2 separate regions of the Homo sapiens genome follow, and region 2 is linked to region 1. The links come from fine-mapping of genetic effects on gene expression. A gene starts in region 1. The other region holds a variant in brackets. All regions are shown on one strand. Distances are between the middles of the regions.

Region 1 (8,000 bases):
AGACTTAGTGGAGACTGAGGGAGGAGACAGAAGCTCATCAGCATCAGCCCATCAGCATACATGATAGCAGAGAAGGAAATTATCATCATGAGACATCTCAAATGATGACAGGGAACTGCTCTGGGCAGTGTGAGGACCTACTGACTGTGGCTGTAACCCCTGAGGGCCTGCAATCTAAGACAAACCCACTAGGAAGAACAAATACTTCTGTGACATACAGATGGTAGAATAAGACAGTCATCTACTACAAGAGTAGAGAGGAAAGCATTCACATCATATACATGTCCAGGTTAGTTTAGGGTGTGGAGCATATAAATGAAAATGGGGTCAATAAAGAAGCACAAGCCAGGGAAGAAATGCACACGCTCACACACAACAATCCAGAAAGGGTTTTTCCGAAGAAAAATACTTTTAGAAATTATTTCCTTTCTCTTTTTTTAATTTAAGAAGCAGTGAAATGGCTGTGCTGTGGTGACAGTGGAATTGAGAGCATTAGATTTAGAACAGAAACTTATTCTAGACATATGGAACAATTGTAAAGATGGGCGGGAAGGGGGTAGGAAGGTAATGTCAGTGGACAAAGACAGCTTTGAGCAAGTGGAAATTCAAGAGAGATTACAACCTGTCTTGACTTTTATGCTAAGTGTCTTAAGTGTTTCCACCCCCACGCTTTTCAGAAAGCTCATGCTCTCCCTATTTCAGGAACATGAAAAATCTCCACGTTTTGAAAACCTGTTTGCAGCAGATGGAGAAGGCAGCAGTGCCATGGTGAAGGAAATGGTGGATAGGGGCATTGGGTATGCTGCGCCATTAGTCCCTGGCCATCCTAATGTCCCCAGATCCTACCACCACAAGAGAGGATCCCAGCCACAACTCATTTATTCAGACCCACTAATTATTAGGTAATCTCCAGTTGCCTTCATCAAACCCAAATTCACCTCTAGAGTTTCAGGCCAGTGATTAGACTCTTAATGTAAAAACTTAATGTTGAGTTCTGCTGGAATATAAACATTTCTCAATATATCAATTTAGACTCCAGCCAGGTAGAGAGACTTGTTTATCTCTGTTGATTGTGTTTACTCAAGACATCCTTTGTGACGTTAATTAGAGAAGCAGCAGCAGAGAACCCTAGGAGTCTGGCTTGAGTAAAAATATGCAGAAAGAGTCCCTATACTCTGACTCCTGGCCCTTTGTAGAGCACAGGCTCCTTGGAGTCAACCATGCTGGCTCTAACCATGACCATTTGAGCTATGAGCCAAAGATGAGCAATTTCAGACTTTCAGAAGAAACTACTCATTCCCGATCACCCTGGTTTCTGAGTTGTAACAATTACTAAGATTTGCATGGGTGGTATGAGAAATTGAGGATTCTCATAAGAATGATTCTTATGATTATTATCTTTGCCAACATTTTTCATCTGCCATATTTAAAATATACCATTCTCTGTTCTAACCACTCTACATGTATTAACACATCTAATAACAATCACATCAGTAGATACTGTAGGTATTATGTTCACATAGATGAGGAACTGACACAGAGAAGTTAAGTCACTTAACTAAGGTCACAAAGCTAGTAGATGAAGGCACAAGGACTTAATTTCCGTTTAGCCGAACCCCAATATTTTAAAGGAATGTTCTAGCAAACATCTGATATCTACATGTAAGTTGCCGTTCTAGGTACCATGCACAAGATGCAAAGAATATATAGACAGTTCCTACAAAGAGCTAGTGGACTAGTTGCAGGTATCGGTAACCCTCTCTATGGTGTTTAAGTTCTGCTCCTTATTTTGTTCACCTACAGAGTAGGAAGTTCTAACTAGAAAAGACACAACAATGTTATCTTTTTTAAAAAACAGGTAAGGTAATTTTAGGCCAGAGGGAGCCAATTTACTAATTAATTTATCAAGAGCTACACAGTGACTAGTAGCACATTCAAAACTGGAAGCAATTTTTGTAACAACTAATATCTCCAAGTCCCATGTGGCAGAGACGGTGCAAAGGTCTTACTAGAGCAGAGGTACAAAGTTTTGATCCATTTGATCAAAATTGATCTTCAATTCTCCTTCAATCCCATCTCTCTTCTTCACCTCCCCCACGCTCGTATTTATTCTAAATTCTTTAACCTTTACTGATCCTCACTACTCCCTTTCTTCTGCCTCTGGAGTGAAACTATGCCTGGACACCACTCAGATTTACAGGGGTGGGACTGCAGATAAAGCTGAACTGCTTGAGATTCTTTATCCTTAATGAGCCTCTAAAGGAAGAAAAAATCATGCTTTGGACAGACAAATTGCCCGAGCAGGAACAAAAGGTAAAACCAAAAGGGGACACGCGTTTTAATGACTTAGGGAGAGGACTTGCAAGCTGCTTAGACTGGGACGAATTAAGACTAAATGCAGTGGGGTGGGAACTAGCGGGGAAGCGGTCATGCCCCCCAGTCTTCCCAGGGAGGAAATGCCAAAGCGACGTGCTTCAGAGAAAGCTTTGCGGTTTCTTTCATACGTATATGAAAGGGCCCTTTCTTAAAGGGTAGGGAAATTGCGTCTGAAGTCTGCGGGTCCCGTCTTCCCATTGTGAGGGATCCCCACTCTGGGAGGTCGCAGGGCCCATTTCTGGAGAAAGACGGGCCGCCTCTCTGTTGTGTGGGAGAGACTGTTTCCCGGCGCCTGGGCCTTCCTGTGGGGTCTGCGAGGTCCCCTCCCCCGGGAGGTGGGACCCCGGGGCAGCGCCTCGCCCCGCAAAGTCCGTTCTGCCTCACGGCGCAGGACTGGCGGGGGAAGCGTATAGCAGCTCAGCACCCCCTCGCGCCGCGTCACCCCTCGGCGTCTGGAGGACCCTGGCCCAGCAGCGGACCGGGCCGGCCGCCCGCCACGAGCGTGCGTAACGTGCCCCCGCAGCGTGACGCACGGGCCGTGCCGGGGCGGATGCGCGGGATGCGGGCCGGGAGGAGCGCGCAGGGGGAGGAGTGCGGGCGGAAGTCGGCGTCTGCTGAAAGGAGAAAGGAAAGGGAGACGCTGCTGGGTGCGGCGAGGTGAGGCTGGGAACCGGCGGGAGGGCGCCTCCTCCTCCCCCGCCCTCTCTGCTGAGGATGGAAGTGACGAAAGCAGCCGAGGAGGTCACTTCCTGCTGGGGTGGATGAGGAGGAGCCGGAGACGCCGCGGAGGAGACCGGACCGAAGACGGACCGTGCCGGGAAGAGGTGAGTCCCGGCCTCGCCTCGGCCGCCGGGGTGTCTGGGTTGGATCCGGGACCCTGGCGGGGACGGCGTCCCTGGAATCGGGGCCGGCCGCCAGGCCGCGTACCCACCCAGCTGGGCCTCACCCAGTGCGGGGGGCGGGGGAGGGTGGGATCCCGTGTCTGTCTGAGGGGCGACAGGGACCCAGGGCAGCGTTCATGCGGTGGCCCCGCGCAGCCCTGAGGCCACGGTTAAGGGAAGCCCGGCCCGGGAGGTGAATGGCAAGGAGGTTCTGGGGGCTGTGGAAGCCAGGACCCGGAGCTGCTGCGGGAAACCCGCAGCGCCAGACTGTGCATGCCTCACTCTTCGGGGAGTGGTCGCGATCAGAGGAAGGGCAGGGGTCCTGTGGTTTGCAGAGTTGAGACGAGTGGCCCTACTTGGATGGAAGTGTCCTTGCAGTGAATATGCGAAAGGCGTGCAGAGGCGCCCCAGGGCTCCTGGGAAAGGGACTTTTATGGGGAAAATTGGAGAGCTGGAGTGTCAAGAGAGGGTTTCCTTGTCAGGTTATCGTTGCAACGGGATTTGGACCCCAGGGTCGTGATGGTTGGAGGGAGTTCTGTGGCAGGGTAAAAGGCCTCGCGATCTGACAGCGCATCCTAGGAGTTAAGAGTCCAGGGCAGCTTCCTGGAGCAGTGGGGAAATTCGTGTTTTTCCTCCCTCATTGTCACTAAGGTGGAAGAGGAAGCTCCTGCCTCAGCCCCGGTGCCTCGTTATTATGTATCTCGTGTGTGTGTGAGAGTGTGTGTGTGTGTGTGTGTGTGTGTGTGTGTTTTTCCTTGTCTGCTCCTTCCTTTGGGGTGTTTATCTTGTCCTCGGCCGCTAGTAGTTTTGTAGACTGACACTTGCTGGTCTCCTTAATGTGTTTGGTGAGAAAAAATATTCAAAAGATCTAGAGAAATCCTAGGTTAGGTGAAATTTCCAAGATAAGGAATTTGTCCCTACGCGGGGGCCACTTAGGCATTCTCTCCAGATGCCTGCTAATGTGGATGCTGAGGGCCTGTCATCCACCCTGGGGAACAGCGAGGGTAGATCTGCCCTCCCTCCATGTCCCTCTGGCAGTTTCACCCCTCCCTCCTTTTTGCTAAGTGATTAACACAAAGCTCCTTGCTGGGAGGAACAGGAAATTTATTGAGGAACTGTAAATCTGGATGGAATGAATTCAAATCGCAGCAAGACTCCTTCCACTCACTGGCCAGAAGGGCTTCAGAAATGCCTGCTTTTCACCCCTTCCTGTTAAATGGAGAAAATGTATAATTTTTCTCAAAAAATTTTTGAGAGTTTGTGTGTGTTTTTTGAATAGAGTAAATGTACATATGGTGTGTTTACTTCCTGTATCCCAGGGTATTTTTCAAGGGGGAGGGAGCAGTTTGTGGCTGGGAAGAATCTTCCTTCTATCTCACATAATTCAGTAAAATAAATCAAAATCAGATGTTCATTCTTGAGTGGGAATCAGATGGATTTGGGATTTTTTCATCCTTTAAACTGGTACATCTTGGTGAACTCAGGCTTGTGTATCTTGGCATGTGGGCTTGTCTAGTAATAGAAGACAAACTGTTTGACTTGTTTTGGCTGCGTTTTTGGACCCATTTCACTGTACCTTCCTTTTTTATTTTTATTTTTTTACATTTGAAGGGTTGGTCAGGAGGAGGAAAACAAATATTAAAGACAGTGTTTACACTTTGTGGTTTAAAGTCAGGTGAGAGATAATTATGGCTTTTGAAGCTGATGACCTGAGGCCCATCATTTGATAACTTGGGGAGTAGCAGTTTGGAGGTGACATGTTTGAAAGAAAGAGAGTTGCATACGGAAAGAAGAACAGGGGAAAGGAAGTTTGGGGAGAGACTGCCAGAAAACTTTTGAGAGGATACTAAATAAATAGCATCTTAAAGTAATTGTGTGGCTTGTGTCTCTCAGCAGGCGGGTGAAAATGAAAGCCGGCTGTAGCATCGTGGAAAAGCCAGAAGGAGGTGGAGGTGAGCAGAAGTTAATCATCTCTGATGTACCTGGAAGCTTCCCTCAGTGGTTCCTGTCCTCTCCACTTGAGCTCTGTTCACAAATGTCAGACCATGACTGACACTCTCTTGGCTAGGTGGATACTGGCAGGACAGTTGTAGGCTTGTTTCCTATGGATGTATATTTAACATGTCTGGTCACCACACCCATATCCTAAGCTTTAGAGTCTCTTTGCTGTCAGAGACACAGTTCCAACCTTAGGGAAAAGGAGTTTTCAGCTGTATTTTCCTGAAACATTAGTTTATCTTTCCTGTTTGTTCCCTTTAGCACTTTTATGTCCTCACAGAAAGTAGGTGTATTTAGTAATGTATGAAAAGGTCAGCTTAGGACATCTGGTTGCTGCTGCCCAACTCTTATCAGATTTAATGATTGCCACAAGGATAGGTGACTTCTCTGTGCTTTCCTCTCCCCATTGTGGTTAGGCCCAGCTGACTGAGAGTACTTACAGCATGTTTGCAAAGCACTCTAGATTCTGAGCAGTGGAATGTGCAGTTGGGGTTGCTGGTATGTATGTACCTACCTCTTAACTAGCTTAATCTTGACCTTCTCACATGAAAGGGTATCAGTTTCCTGACTGGGCCTACAAAACAGAGTCATCCCCAGGCTCCCGGCAGATCCAGCTGTGGCACTTCATCCTGGAGCTGCTGCAGAAGGAAGAGTTCCGCCATGTCATCGCCTGGCAGCAGGGAGAGTACGGGGAATTTGTCATCAAGGATCCAGATGAGGTGGCCCGCCTCTGGGGCCGCAGGAAATGCAAACCACAGATGAATTATGACAAGCTGAGCCGGGCCCTCAGGTAAGGAAAAGGATTCCCAAATCTGTGTTAACAGATTGGAAGGAGACTAAGCTGTTTGGTGAATGCTAGATAAAAAGGGTATCAGGTAATAAAAGACTACACTATCTTAGTGAATAATGTGTCACTTTAAAGTGGGAGTAGAAGAGCTGTTGAATGTGAGTAGCATAGGCACAGGAGGAGAAAAGGCATATCTTTGGTTATACGTAGGAGGGGATTCCAATGTGGCTGGCACTGGATCCTGACAGACAGCTGATTCTGCTCTGTAGTGGGCGAGAGTATATGGTGAAACATGGATTGGAGTTCATTTATAATCCAAAGGATTAGTTTAGACTTCTCTATTAGAATCTGTTAGAATTTCTTTCTTTGGGCTTCCCTGAAAGAAACTTAGAAAAGGATGAAGCAAGTCACGGGAGGAAGATTCAGTGATACTGACCTATCTATTCCGGAACTGTGTCTGTGAGCTCAGGTTGTCCATAGCCTGCTGCAATATGTCTAAAGATTGATCACTATAAGTTTTCTCAGGTTCTTTTTTCCCCTTGTCGGTCTTACATTTCATAGTCCTTTAGCCCTCAAGGGGCTAGAAGGCAGTTTATGACCTCTGCTACTGCATAGATGTAAGACTAAAGGTTCCAGATAATTGAAGTTCTCCTGACCTGAAATGTAAACTCTGTACAGTGGCTTTGCTGTATTCTTTCACATCCCTTTGAGTCTTTGAAGGTGAGGCGGGCCACACTAGCTGCTGTTTTCCAGATCAGGGCATGCCATTGTTTGACCTGCCACCATAAAACAGTTGTACATTCCTTTGTCTGTCTTTTGAGCTTAGGCCTCCAGACTAACCACATCAGGTCTCCCTAGTGATTTGTCTGCCCCCACCTGGGCAAGACCAAAAAGAAAAACTAAGCAGTTAGTGACATGCAGTGCAACCGGACGGAAATGGACTGTAGAATCGAAATTGTAGAGAGATGGAGAAGAAAATGTTTGGGGCTAGGATAAGTGTTCAGAATCTTAAAGTGAAGTTGTCTTTGTAAACCTCTAGGCAAAAACGAGCTGAGTTGAAAATTGAGTAAGAAAATTAAGCTGTTAGGTCTCCTAGATCTACCTGGAGGGCCAGGCTGCGAAAGATTGGTAGTGATTTTTGTAAGTAATACTCAGAGCAAGAATTGTTGGTCTCAGTGGCTACCTAAGTGTATTGAAAGCTGTCAGTAGCTACAAGACGAATGGACATGTATTCCTGTTTTTACAGATACTATTACAACAAGAGGATCCTTCATAAAACAAAAGGGAAAAGATTTACCTATAAATTTAACTTCAACAAGCTGGTGATGCCCAACTACCCATTCATCAACATTCGGTCAAGTGGTAAGATACAAACTCTTTTGGTAGGGAATTAATTTTGAATTGAAAAGAATTTTTAAAAATCCAAATCTAAGACATGGCATGTTTAGGAAGATTTTAGAAACACTAAAATAATGTGATCCTTTGGATTGCCTCAATGTTCTTACTCAAGTCATCTCACTTATAAGGAGAGTTATAGGCTATTCAGTATCAAGATAGATTTCTTTGGTTTATTTGGTTGGTTCCCTTTTCTGCATATTGTTTGTAATCTCCTAGATACTATTACGCTATCTTGTTTGGGAATGATGTTTCATAGGTTTGTGATGATCTTTACGTTCAGGACTCAGTTTTAACACCCAGCCCAGTGGTTCTTTCATAGATGGGAACCTGTTTCTACAAACACTTCCGATTTTCTGTGAAACTACCAAGCTCTCCCTTATCAAGTGAATATCATCAAAACCACAGCATCCTTGATCAGAGAAGGGGGAGGTTCACATGTTTGCAGTGAAAAGCAGTGTCTTTGATCTGCAACAGCAAATCCTCAGAGAAAAAGATTCTGGGGTTACTTGACCTTCTCTCCTGTTAAGTGCAGTAGGGCTTCCCCTCTTGACTTTCCTGGT
Region 2 (8,522 bases), 42 kb before region 1:
CTGAGGCTGGCCCTGGGCTGGGGCTGAGTGAGAGGGGAGGACTTCATTCACAGGGATTCCCAACTGTGGTAGGCAGAACAGTGGCCTCCAAAATGTTTAGGACCAATCCTGGTAACCTGGGAATAAGTTAGCTGCAAGGCAAGGGGAATTAAGTTCCCAGATGGAATTAAGGTTGCTAATCAGCTGACCTTAAAATAGGGAGATGATTCTGAATTCCCAAACACTAACATCAGTGTTCTATTAGGAAATACAGGAAGATGGCCATGAGCCATGGGACGCCAGCAGCCACTAGCAGGTGAAAAACGCAAGAAAATGGCTTCTCCCCGGAGCCCTGAGAAAGAACACAGCCCTGCCACCACCTTCATTTTAGCTCATGGATACTTGTGTCACATCTCTAGCCTACAGCACAGTGAGATAATAAGTTTGTGTTGCCTTCAGCCAATAATTTTTGGTAGTTTGTTACATTAGCGATAAAAAACTACTATACAAATTAATGTTAATCGTATATAGGATGATTAATGTTATTGGAAAAATTGCTATTTTCCTGAATTTCCATTTCCTGTCCCAAAACACTGAAGAGATTTTCTTCCTGCTGTGAATCTCAGCTCTGCTCTGTATCTCTGGGGACCTCATGTGCCTTATTTTAGTGGAGAAAATGGAGTCTGAAGACTGGTGTCTGAATGGAACCCTGCATGGGGCCTATGTGACACTCTAGGGACAAAAAAAGCAGGTAAGCCAGAGGATGGGGGAGGGAGGGGTGTCACTCACCATAGACAGTGAGGTAGAAAACCTGGCCAGATAATTGTCCCCCAGTTAAATGGATCATGGCCATGTACTGCCCACTGTCTTCAGGGGCCAGGTTCTCAATCCTCAGAGACAACACGCTAGGCACATGGACCCTCTGCTTGAACTTTTCCTCAAGGCCGACCCAGGTTGGAGAGTCGGCCCCCCTGTGGACTCACAGCACCTGTGTATGATTTGACAGAGTACCCAAAGTCCATACAACCTCCTCCAGCTCGGCGTCTACATCTACTCTGAGCTTCTCAATCACATTCAACAACACAGAACCTCCTCGGATCCCCTTCAGACAAATGTGAGCTCCAGAATCCTTCACTGCAGGGCCATGTGCTCCAGAAGTGTTGGCTGTTGTGCTGCAGACACCTAGGGCATGGAAACAGGAAACATGAGTATTTCCTCAGCAAGAACAAATGAGAGAACCACAGAACTTTCTATTTTAGTAAAATTTATCCAATATACTCCCTTGATTTTAGGAATAAAGCTAGTACAACAAGTCTGAAGCAATTCTGAGAGCAAGTCCTGGTTCTTGTGGAGTGTAATGTCTAAGTATTTTGTACAATTTTGGTATAAAAATGGACACTAAACATCAGTGTTCTGGCCAGATGTGGTGGCTCAGGCCTGTAATCCCCGCACTTTAAGAGGCTGAGGCAGGTGGATCGCCTGAGGTCAGGAGTTCAAGACCAGGCTGGCCAACATGGTAAAACCGAAACCCTGTCTTTACTAAAAATACAAAAATTAGCCAGGCATGGTGGTGTGCGCCTGTGATCCCAGCTACTCAGCAGGCTGAGGCAGGAGAATCGCTTGAACCCAGGAGGCAGAGGTTGCAGTGAGCCAAGATCATGCCACTGTACTCCAGCATGGGCAACAAGCAAGACTCCATCTCAAAAATAATAATAATAATAATAAAGTGTTCTATTTAATCTGAAGCTCAAAGAAACAGCCATTTTTTCCACCTGGATAAATGTGGGCATTCATTAGACTTGCTGGGAGATAACACTCCAGTCTCCTGTATGGCACTTTCCTAACAGATTTTCAGGAATAATTCTGGCCAAAACAGTGTTTGTCTTACTTCTTGCAGCATTGCCTGGAACCAGTGAAATAGAAATTAGTGTTTTCTGCTGAGCAGACAGAAACTGAAAAGGTCTGGCTGAGGATTGTATTAGTGGCTTCTAAATGCCACAGCTGCAGCAGGCCTTCCTGAGTGAGGGCTGACCCCGAAGACCCCTCTCAGGAGCAGAGGCAGAGAAAGCAGAGGGTCACGTGGAGGGGACTGAGAGAGGAGGAGTCCCTTCCTCCCTTGAGGGCTGAGGAAGTGGCCACAGGGACACCCAGGGCCTTCTCTCTGAAGAAGCCTGAAATAGGCTCACTGGCTGTCAGTGCCCGTCAGGCCACAGGATAGGACAGGACAGGATGGGGAGACAGAGCAGAGACCTTGATAGAGCCACAGGAGTCACCAAATCCCAGAACCTCACTGCTGAGAGGGGACTCAAGGATGATCTGTCCAAGCTCCTGCTTTTATTACAGAGTAGGCACTCTCTATGGGGTAGACCTGTCCTGAGTCACACAGGGCAGAGCCACACCTGGAGCCCAATTTCCTCCCCCAGCCCAGGGCCTCCCCTGCAGGACGCTGCCCATGAGCTCTTCCATCCTCACCTGCCCTCCCCGGAGCTCAGCTGCACTGTCGTCTGAGCCCACCAGGCCCTGAGCAGCTGCCGGGGTCTCCACCCCAACTGCCCTCTCCTGAAAAGGGGAAGCAGCTACTTTCAGTGGCTGAGCAGAGCAGGGACTTCTGGCTAGCAGAGGGTTAAACAGGCAGCCTGGACAGACCCCACTTCCTGGACGAGGGAACTGGGAACCAGAAAGAGAGGAGGCTCAGCCCTCAGGCTGCCAGGGAGGATCTGCCCCAGAAGGTGGATGATGAGCATAGCAGGGAGGAAGATGAAGATTCAGAGAGGGAAGGAAGGCAGCAGGAGCTCTCTGATCTACAGAGATGCTAATCCTGAAGAAGAAAAAACAAGCCAGGGAGCAGGTGGTCATTTACAAGGTGGAGTTAAACATTCATTTAAACTGTATAAAATTTTAAATCCTGTCATCAGCATAAAAGATTGTTCATTTTTATCCAGGCATGGTAGTGCACACCTGTAGTCCTAGCTACTTGGGGGGCTGAGGCTGGAGGATCACTTGAGCCCAGGAGGTCGAGGCTGCAGTGAGCCAAGATCACACCATTGCACTCCAGCCTGGGAGACAAAGTAAGACCCTGTCTCAAAAAAGAAAAAAAAAAAAATATATATATATATA[T/G]ATATAGTCCATTTGTCTGACATAGCTCCCATCACCACACTCACAAACCAACAATTCATGTTTGATGCCCAAACTGCGCTTCTTGGTACCATCTCCATTGTCTCATGTCTCTGTCTGGAGCCCCTAATGCAAAGACCCTTTCTCCTCCAACTCCCTGCTGGCAGACACTGGGTGGGCATTCAGTAAATCTTGTTATTGTTATGGTCAGGGGCTCCCCAGAAGTCAAGGACCACCCTCACCTGCAACTGCCTCTGTCTCTGGGAAATTATATGTGAGCTGAGCCACCCTCAGGCTCCCTCCTTCCCTTCCACACTTCCCCATCCAAACACATGTTCAGGAAGGGTGTTAGAGTTTAAGAATGATGAGGACAAATTCCTCATTTCCACTACATCATCACTGCTTCATCCCCATCTTCCTCCCTGGGTCAAGGGTGAACTGGAACAAGGACTATCCAGAAACCAAAGGAAAAATGCATCCAATTATGGAGCTTCGGGATTCTTGCAAGGACGCAGAGCAATTTCACAATGATGTTCCTTCTGCGGACAGCCTCTGACCAAATTCCACAGCAAGAGGTCTTGTCTCATTCAGTACCACACCACTGGGACAACCAATTTCATTCTTTCCCAGTAATTTCCTGAGAGAATCACTTTCTTTGTCTGGACACGGATCTCCTACCCCTAAAATGAGAAATTCTAAGTCCTTTCCTTCTTTCTCTCCCTCCCTTCCTTCCTTCCATTCTTTCTTTATTTTTCTTTGTATCTTCAGAAATCTTCCAACCCCCATGCCTACAAGGAAAACTCTATACAACTGAACATATTTCCAGGTAAATAACATTGTAGAAGTGGAGAACGCCTACATTTTGCTGACTACAGAAGGTTACCTATGTAAAGAGGACGTAGCCCTATTTCTAAGCCCATTGTTTTTTCAAGACATCCTGTTTTACAAATGCTCTCTAATCTGCTCAATTTCATATAATTCCCTGCAAGTTCAAGTATTGGCTGGAATATTAAAACAAAAAAAATTATAACCATAAAACTTCCACAAAAATTCATCTTTACTATGTCTTATTTTGTCATTAATTTTGACCTAATTTCATTGTATATACAAACATATAATCTTAAATAGAGTCATGAATGTGATATACAGCCTAGACTAGGACAGTCTTTCTTTCAGTTTCCTTTTTTGCTTAATTCCCTGTGTTCTCTGCTTTTTCTCCCTCCATTTTTCCTGCCCAAATTCATGCTCTGTTGTAGCCCATGTTAGCAATCTACTGATTCCTTCCACATTGCCAATATAGTCTTAAAAACATGTGACTGTAAAGATGTAAACCCTTAAATTTTGGAAGCTGCTTTTCCTTTTATAAAGTAAGGATTTCATTGTGTTTCATTTCCTGAACTTGCTGCTAGGATTCCATACCTCATACTTCAAAAAAATTTAAAACTCCTTCCAGGAAACTGAACTATTTCTTTTTGTAAGCCTCCATAATATTCCATGGTACAGATACTCCTCAGTTTGGTCAATCATTCATGAATTGATGGGCACCTCCTCTTTTTTCCAGGGTTTTTCCCTACAACAGTGCTGTGATAAACATGGTTTCACCTGCGGCCTCCAGGACCTGAGCAGCATTTCAGGGTGGAGGGAAAGGCAACTCTCAGGGACAATAAAGGGATCCTCCTGTGGTATTCATTTTAGGCAAAGATAAATGCTGGTTAATATTTTAAATGAAAACTATTTGGCCAGGCGCAGTGGCTCACATCTGTAATCTCAGTACTTTGGGAGGCTGAGGCAGGCGGATCACGAGGTCAGGAGATCGAGACCATCCTGGCCAACATGGTGAAACCCCGTCTCTACTGTAGCTGGGTGTGGTGGCGGGCACCTGTAGTCCCAGTTACTCAGGAGGCTAAGGCAGGAGAATCTCTTGAACCCAGGAGGCAGAGGTTACAGTGAGCCAAGATCACACCACTGCACTCTAGCCTGGTGAGAGAGCGAGACTCCATCTCAAAAAAAAAAAAAAAAAAAAAAAAAAAAAGAAAAGAAAACTATTGCAAATTACACAAACAATTTTAAGATAAACCTGAGACCTCCAAGTGTCCTCTCCTTTGTGATGACCTGTGAGCCCCAAGCCCAGGCAGGGGAGTTCATATTCACTCTCCTTTTTCAACGGAGAAGCCCAGGACAGAGGAGCTTCTTCCAGTTCAGACAGCAGGGTTCTAGTTCTGCCCCTCCTCCACAGGACAGCTGCAAAGACCGTCAGAGCACCTCTGAGTTCCTGGCTGGGAATGTATTGTTCCCACCCTCTCTTCCCCAGGAGACAGGTAGTTTGTCTGTCTTCATCCCTCTTTCCAGGCAGGTAGTTTGTCTGTCTCCATCCCTCTTTCCAGGCAGTATCAGGCCACCCTCCTACTGCAGCAGAAGCGGCCCCACCTCCCTGGTAAAGGTTCCCTCAATACCACCAAGACTGCCCTAGTTCAGGGTTCCCAGCCTCCTCACCACCAAAAGGACTTTTTGTTATTTCTATCCTGGGGCTCCAACCAAATATGCTGCATTTGTAAATCATAACAGAGTGGTTTTCTCTTTTTGTGGCCCAAAGACAGCGGAACCTGAACAGCCCACCCAGTGGTCAGACCCAGCTAGCCCAGCCCCACCCAACTGCCCTCCCTTCCCAGGAACCCTGCACTCACTGAGGAGGAGATTGATGAATCCCAGGAGCCCTGAGTCCCAGCAGAGGGACTGGCCCCAGAGCAGGGCCCCATGGCAGGCTGCCTGCTGCTTGTTCAGCTGCAGAAGAAACATAGGAAGAAACGAAGGCAAGAGGGAAGGACAAGTTTGAGCACAGGAGCCCTTCCCCACTTTAAGGGTGGGGCTAGCAAGTTACTACTGGGGAGACAGCCACCAGTCTAGAGAAAGCCATTCAGCTCTTTCATCCCCTCCCAGTCCCTACAGTACCACACACACTCAATAAGTAATTGCAGAAGAAATGAAAGTACAACCTCACTCTGTGATGTTCCTGGCAGTTTGTTAGACTGTCCCGTCCCTGCGGGCACAGCCAGCTTGGTGTTCCCTCCCACACCCTCCCCTGATGCTTCCCTGGGTTCACAGCTCTGCCCCAGGTGGCCCTGGTGACCAGTGTCAGCCTATGGTCAGGCACAGAAGTCACCCTCTTACAGCAAGGCTGGGCTATGCCACTCCTGAGTTCAGTGGCTTTCCTTTGTCACTGCCTTATTTAGTAAATTAAATTTCTTCTTTTTTATTTTTTTGAGACAGGGTCTCACTTTGTCACCCAGACTGGAGTGCAGCGGTGCAACCTTGTCTCACTGCAGCCTCAACCTCCTGGGCCCATCGATCCTCCCGCCTCAGCCCCGCCAAGTAACTGAGGCACCACCACTCCCAGCTAATTTCTGTAGAGATGGGGTTTTGCCATGTGGCCCAGGCTGGTCTTGAACTCCTGAGCTCAAGCAATCCACCTTTCTTGGCCTTCCAAAGTGCTGGAATCACAGGCATGAGCCACCGTGCCCAGCCAGATTTCTGTTTAGATTTTCCAAAAACTTCAACTGTCAGTTGCCTAAGTAAGAAGCTATGGGCAAAAGAACAAAGTTCTCGTGGATAGTGTAAACTCCCCACATCCCCATTGCAAATCCTGGCATTTACCTTTTGCTGGTGGCCATATGGTTTCTCAGTTCCCACTAGTGCTAGTCACCTTTCTATACACTCAGGGTAAGGACAGACCCCCACAGAAGCTGACAGTCTACAGAAAGCCATTCAGCCATGGCTGGATTGAACCATGACTTCCCCTGTAAGTTCCTCCCAGCCCTGCTCCTGCAGGACAGAGAGCTGCATACTCCCTCTGCCACAGCCTCAGCTGCCTTAAACTCTCCACCTCCTGCTGAGCCTCTTCTCTCCAGACCTAGATACACCACAACATCTGTGAGTTCCCCCTTCCGTTACCCTGGGGGAGCAGTATCATTTTCCTAACCCCAAGGCACCGCCTCCTTTTCCCCACCTGGTCTTCCCCGATGGCTGCACAGGCAGAACACCCCGAAGGCTGGAGCTGCAGGCCTGACCCCATGACCACCTCAAGGTAGGTTTCTGGGTATTAAATCCATTTAATGGATGTGAAACCCAAACCTCAGAGGGCTTATGAACCTGTGAAAGGTCACACAGCTAATCAAGGCACAGGGTCTGGACTCCTGACCACAAGCTCAGGACTCATCGCTGACATCACAGCCACTCTCCCATCCCACTGTGTGTCCCCAAGCACGTCACCTTGAGTGCACTCTGTGCTCTCACCCAGAACTGCTCCACAGATTCCCAGGAGAGAAGATATTCAAGACTGGTTTGATTCTCACTCCCCTACCTGGTAATGGGGAAGTTACTGCAAAAGGCAGTCCACAAGTTCTAGAGTTAGAATATCCTTCCTATGTGGAATCAAAATCTGGGCAGCTCATCTGCGCTCACCCTCAGGATCTCAGCGTGACGGGAACCAAGCCTGGCCGGGCTGCTCCCTCAGAGAACTAATTAGAGGAAGGGTCACTGAGTCACCCAGCCCAGAGGGCATCACAGGCAGGAGGGTGGTCCTGTGTCAGGACTCAGGCTGTGGAAGGAGGCAGACATGAAAGTGACAGCAAAGAGGGGAAGCCTGTCTATGGCCAATGAGATCTGATGCCTCCCTGAGATAGACCCAGAGCTGCAGTGAAGTCAATGACCAAGCACCTTCTTGGATCCACTGGGTTTTTTCTTGGAAACCAGGGCAGAACAGAGCCAAGACAGCAGGTGTGGGTGCAGGTGTGAAGGGTTAGACTGGGACGGAAAGAAAGTGGGGGACTATGAGACAGTAAAGTTGGACATTTTCAGAAGCATAGGGAGGCTTCATTGTGTCAAGCCCTGGCCAGGGATCAAACCAAGCTCAGGCAGATCTCTGAGGGCAAGCTGGCACATTCCCTTTATAAACAGGCTCATCCAACACCCATTATGCCCCTGACCTAGGATGCCTTCCTGTACTGCAGGAGATGAAAAGCTCAAAACTACATTTTTCAGACACATTTCAGCTGAGGTCCCACAGGTCATTTCACATACACAGAACTTTTACTGAGACTGAGTTACATGGGGGTGGAGGCAAGGTGCAGGCCATGTTTTGGGCAAGGAAGGCTGGCAGCAATGGCATGGTCACAACCAGCAGCTCCTGACCTCACTCTGTTGCCCAGGCTGGAGTGCAATGATGCAATCTCAGCTCACTGTAACCTCTGCCACCCGGGTTCAAGCAATTCTCCTGCCTCAGTCTCCCAAGTAGCTGGGATTACAGGTGCCCACCAGCAGGCCCAGCTAATTTTTGTATTTTTAGTAGAGACGGGGTTTCACCATGTTAGTCAGGCTAGTCTTGAACTCCTGACTTCAGGTGACCCATCTGCCTCAGCATCCCAAGGTGCTGG

What was found. PIP is the estimated chance that this variant, and not a neighbour inherited with it, causes the effect.
Region 2: its variant is fine-mapped to the expression of ETV3 in whole blood (INTERVAL, PIP 0.97).

What each region holds. Positions count from the first base shown.
Region 1 is chr1:157,133,516-157,141,515 of GRCh38, reverse strand. ETV3 (ETS variant transcription factor 3) reads left to right here and starts at 3,121. Exons shown (of 5, transcript NM_001145312.3): 1 at 3,121-3,200; 2 at 5,151-5,209; 3 at 5,808-6,045; 4 at 7,289-7,404. The coding sequence starts at 5,164. RefSeq lists an enhancer at 2,057-2,662 and silencers at 2,594-2,963, 3,014-3,349, 3,194-3,383.
Region 2 is chr1:157,175,499-157,184,020 of GRCh38, reverse strand. LOC107985211 (a long non-coding RNA gene) reads right to left here. Exons shown (of 4, transcript XR_007066653.1): 2 at 769-1,161. Among named protein-coding and RNA genes, the nearest start is that of ETV3, 41 kb to the right of the region's middle. RefSeq lists an enhancer at 2,029-2,188. The variant T/G (reference allele first, on the strand shown) is at 3,097.